Homo sapiens: one gene and its partner. The protein of the gene in region 2 purifies or fractionates together with the protein of the main gene of each other region. This does not show direct contact. Each region holds a gene or a part of one and is shown on either strand. Other genes may lie near its edges.

Region 1 (2,530 bases), on a different chromosome or scaffold from region 2:
CACTTAAAGTCTCTTGGTTTATACATGCAGTCTTAGGGCTAATAGCAGTAGTCATGAGTCTCCCGATTCCTGAAGCTGCATATTCACAGAAATTCTTACAAATATTGTCATTCACTAGCAACCCCTATGAGATATGGCTTCTTCAAGAATGGAGTATTTTTCTGAACTTACTCTTCTAGATCTAAACCCTTCTATATAAAATAGGAAGAGAAAACAACAGATCCACGGGACAGATCACTCAGATGCAATACCAGTTGAAACTCAAAGGGAAACAAATAGCAAACAATGGAAAAGAGCTCTAAAACTGAGAAACTGGCATTCTTACCGGGTCTGAGAACCATCTGTTGGGTATGTTTGGCCTTTGTTGATCCACACAGACTACCTTCCTCATATCTTCAAAACTTGGGTCATTGGGAACCACATCGTAGAACGGTGGCTTGTAATCCTCCACTATACCTGCACACAAGGACAAGAATTGTGTTCGGTTAGCAAGAGAGTACAGGTTGCCCCAAGGTTTCATTGATGGGTGTCACAGGTTATAATGTGACAGAAGAAAATACTAATCACCTTCCTCATACCTCAGGGCAGTCCTGGAAGCTAGAGGTAGGTCCTAAAACAGGTGGGAGAAAAAGGCAATAAATACACACCCTGCATGGTATTGGAAGAAGGATAATTGTTAGAAGGAAATACGTGAAAACTTCTCATGTAATCATAACTATTAGCAAAATTCTCCAACAGTGTATATTAACAGCTCTGTAACGCCCAACAGGGCACTGGAGACATAGAACAAAAATTCCTTTGGTGATAAAAACCACCCAAGCTACCTATGGAAAGTACCTGAATCTAGTGGTTTCAAACCATAAATAGAAATAAAAAGTTGTCCACAAACTAGAGCTAGGGAGTAATAAACCAAGACCATCATCAAAATACCCCTTTCTTTGTTAGAAAAGTATTTTGTTAAGAAAAACATTGCTATAAATTAATCTCTTCCATTAGGAGGGATGCAAATAATATCATAGGAAATACTCATTTCCTCATTCATTCATTCTACATGTACTGAGTACCCTCTAACTACAGGCACAGCTGTCTGACTGATGGCTCTATTATTTACTATCATATTGAAGGCACAAAATAAAATGTAAAGAGGATAGCCATGTGGGAAGGCAGAGGAAAAGAAGGATAAATAATGAACTCTTCCTCTGCCCAAAAGCAAATATGAACAGTAGCTAATACCAGCTTCTGCCCCTGCATGATTTCCAATGGCCTGGAAACTTTTTCTTTTCCAGCAGAATTATATCAACTCCTTAAACAGAAAAATTTTTAACTTCATCATTTGGAATTAGAAAATGGATTCTTCCCCTTCATAGAAATAAAACCAAGACATCTATTATTTCCTTTCCCTCAACAAAGGGTTCAAACAATGAGGTAATAACTTGGTTTACTGCTCTCTTTTCTTCCTCCAGGCGACTTTCTTCTATTCCTAAATACCTAAGAAGTTGTTGGAGGCGACAGAAGGAGTGTGAGGAAAGTTGTAATTCGGTTGTTCTAGTTCCTACAAGCCACCTGAAAAGCTTCAATTCCCTTTTCATTTATCACAGAAATTACTCAACAGTGGGAATCCATCCTTACAAATTCCATACAAATACAAACCATTTATGCAAAAGATTAGATATAAGGAGCATCTTTTCAAGAAATGCTACATATCTTTTTAAAACTTCACAAATTTGGCTAAATAAAGGTTTATATTTGAGATGGAAACAAGTCTAAATTATATTTTTTAAAAATCTAGGCTGGGTGTGGTCGTTCACGCCTGTAATCTCAGCACTTTGGGAGGTCGTGGTGGGTGGACCACTTGAGGTCAGTGTTCGAGACAAGCCTGGGCAACATGGCAAGACCCTGTCTCTACTAAAAATACAAAAATTAGCCGGGTGTGTTGGCGCGTGCCTGTAGTTCCAGCTAACTCAGGAGGCTGAGGCACAAGATTTGCTTGAACCCGGGAGGTGGATGTTGCAATGAGCCAAGATCAGACCACTGCACTCCAGCCTGGGTGACAGAGTGAGATTCTGTCTCAAAAAAAAAAAAAAACTAGTTAATTCCAAATAACTTACCCACATTGTGTAACTGCATTTGAAATGCATATCAGTCAGTGGATTAAAACCTTTCCTGGCAAATCATAAACATCATATTGGGTATAAACTGCTACTCTCAGAAATCTTGGAACACCTCATCTTAGAGGCCCTTCTTCTCCTGTAAGGATCCCAGGAAACATTCAAACAAAAATCTTTTAATTATTTTCAGTACTAACAGACACCATCTAAAATACAGCTGAACATGGACCTAGAGAGATATTTTATGCGTTTTCTAGGGTCACAAGAATTTACAGAAAACAGTAAGACACGTGCCCTTCACCATCTCTCAATTTTTCTGAAAGAGAATATATTTAATAGCCTGGCTTAATATTTAAAAATCTAGCATAACAGCCATCTTTTTGGAGTAATTTACCTGTTGAGCTTAGAAAGGGTTATGTGAA
Region 2 (2,997 bases):
AAAGAAAAAGAAAAAAAACAAGGGTGGGTTGGGTATTCCAGTGGGAAGATCATTGAAGGGAAAAATGTTACTATTTACTGAGGTATTTTTCACAGAATGATTGAATTAAAAAAAACTCAACTTGCATTTTCATTGTGGGTGCTTAGAGAAGTTCTACAAAATTCAAACTGTGAAGGTTTATGCTTCATTAATTATGACCATACTTTTTCATTTTCTGACGATCCCTGATTTCCTTATGGACTCAATAAGAATCTTTTATATCAAGTAAAATGAAAGTTGATGATAGAATATCAAATAGTGAATTTGATATGAAATCTAAGAGTGTGAGTCACTTGCATATGTAATGCTTTGGGTTTTTGCATATTTTCTTAGGTCACAGTGACAGGTTTCTGAGTTGTTTCCCTTTTCAAGTCTCTGGGAGGCCAGTGGCAGCAGCAGGTCTGTGTTTCACCTTCTTCCCATGTGAGCTTGGAAAACTTTGGCATCTTAATTAGTCTTGAATCATACACCTGATCCCCAAACATTGCCTGCTCTCAATGAAACATGCTTTGGAAATGGAAGGGACTCAGAAAGTCGAAATCCCAAGAACTCCAAGCCAAAAGTGTTAGGTTTTAGTGAAATTTGTGTCAGGTATAAGCATACCTGTTTGGGCCAGAATTATTATCACAGCCTTTCTGACCCAAACTTTCAAAAGCAAATAAACAGCATATAAAACGTTAATTATCTTTCCATTGTAATTGTGATGATCTACTCTGTATGGGTACCAAAATCACCTTCTCTCTTCAAGTCAAAGTTGAATTTAGAACTTTGAATACAGGTCAAAAAATGTAGAAAATATCATTTTATATTCCCTAATCTATATAGCTGAAAAAGGGTTGTATTTTCTTAGCTGAATATGAATACCTCTTAAACATAAATTAGTTCCTCTCCAGTGAAGTATCTTATTTTACCAATCCATTTCAGGAAAGAGGTTCTGCTGCCGTAAAGGCAGAAATTTTATTTTTATCCCTTTTATTTGAATGAGAGATTTGAAAATCGAATTATGTAAATATTTCAATGCATCTGCTATTATTTTGTGGAGTTTATTAAACTACTTTAAAAAAATTGTATAGTCTATTTATTGTATGTATGTACATACAGTCTGATACCTAAAATTTAAAGTGGATTCCATAAAACCAGACTCAAGTCTTGTTTAGACTACTGAATACTGTTTTAGCCTGTGCCCTGGATTCTACCTCTGTATAGGAAAATTTTCCATATTCATTAATTAGTGTTGATCTGTATTAATTGGTTATGTTTCTTGCACTAAGGATGTTTAAAACTCCGCTGTAAGTGTAGATTTTAGTTTTACTGGCAGGATGAATCACTTGACACATAGGTAGATACTTGAGGTTCATTTTCTTTTCTTTTTCTACATGATGATGAATAGTTATGTTTTCTTCTCTGATTTGTTCAAAGTTTGCCAAAAGAAAACACAAAACCAGTACAGTACTTACTGATAAATCGTAGTGACTGTAATTTGTTTGTAAGGCGAATTAATGCTCTACAATTAAAGCTGGATTACTATTGAGGAACACATTGTCTTAGTGTAGTTTTTGAATGGAAAGTTTTTGTCATTAAGGATGAAGGAAACGACACAATTTGTTACTTTAATTTTATATTTGATTTAAACAACAAATAAAGTCATTGGGACAATAAATATATATCCCGATGAATCTTTTTGATTTGTTTTACTTTTCTTATTTTTTTTTTTTTAACTAGAAAAAGGGAAAGAAGAAGTCAGGAGTTTAAAACCAAATTGGAGGGCAGATGAGAAATCCTGCCAAGATCGGGATGTGCCTTCATGCATGAGGTGAGGCCAGAGGTGTGGGCACCTGTACCTGCCTCCTCTTCTGGGCTGGCTTTCCTGTCTGCCTGCTCTCGGGCTTGGGCAGAGCCATCTCCATCCTGGGGTTTCCTTTAAGCTAAGCTGAAAGCAAAATTTGGGGAGTGAATGATTTAAACTTTTCCTGCTGCTTTTGGTAACTTCTCACCTGGGGCCATATTTTACAGATTTGAATTTTTTTTTTTCTTTTTTTGAGATGGAGTCTCGCTCTTGTCACCCAGGCTGGTGTGCAATGGTGCGATCTGGGCTCACTGCAACCCCCACTTCCCGGATTCAAGCAATTCTGCCTCAGCCTCCCGAGTAGCTAGGATCACAGGCACCCACCACCATGCCCAGCTGATTTTTGTAGTTTTAGTAGAGACAGAGTTTCACCACGTTGGCCAGGCTGGTCTCAAACTCCTGACCTCAAGTGATCCACCCCCCTCAGCCTCCCAAAGTGCTGAGATTACAGGCGTGAGCCACTGCCCCTGGCCCAGATTTGAAATTTTTTAAAAATAAAACATGATTCTTGGTTATTGTAGGTATTTAATAAATGTTAAATAAATATATACATAGAACAAAGTAGTGCCTGCCTTCCTGCTGTGTTTTTTGAGTTAGTATATTGAGATAAAATTCAACAGGTTTTATGGATGCTGAGTGAACCAGTTCTTTGCAAGAGCAGTGGTAGAAAGTGGTATTGGCCCTGTGTTCTTGAGCGACTCACAAAAGTATGAGAGCTACTCCAGCAATTGAGAAGTTGCACAATAGAGACCTAATAGAACATGTCACTTTCATATTGATACCCCATTTTGTCTGAAACCACTTTATCTCCCTTGATGTCATTGGAGTCAGCATCTTGGGTGGGTCTTAAAGACATTATCTTCTGAAAAGTCAGCCATGATGAGGTCCTACCCTTGTTGAAAAAGAGAAGGAAACAAGAAACATGCTCTTGCACTGAGACAGGAACAGGATACTTAACTTGGGTTTTATATATATATTTATTTTTAAATATATATATATTTTTAAACAGAGTCTCACTTTGTCACTCTGCCTGGTGTGCAGTGGCACAATCATAGCTCACTGTAGCCTCCAACTCCTGGGCTCAAGTGATCCTCCCGCCTCAGCCTCCCTGG

The links.
Region 1: the proteins of CCNY (region 2) and ACVR1 purify together in Homo sapiens (co-immunoprecipitation; one large-scale study listed by IntAct). This does not show direct contact.

What each region holds. Positions count from the first base shown.
Region 1 is NC_000002.12:157,738,115-157,740,644, forward strand, and holds part of ACVR1 (activin receptor type-1 precursor), read right to left. Parts: intron 457-2,530; coding exon 326-456; intron 1-325. UniProt on the Homo sapiens protein: Bone morphogenetic protein (BMP) type I receptor that is involved in a wide variety of biological processes, including bone, heart, cartilage, nervous, and reproductive system development and regulation.
Region 2 is NC_000010.11:35,570,222-35,573,218, forward strand, and holds the end of CCNY (cyclin-Y), read left to right. Parts: 3' UTR 1-2,446; downstream 2,447-2,997. UniProt on the Homo sapiens protein: Positive regulatory subunit of the cyclin-dependent kinases CDK14/PFTK1 and CDK16.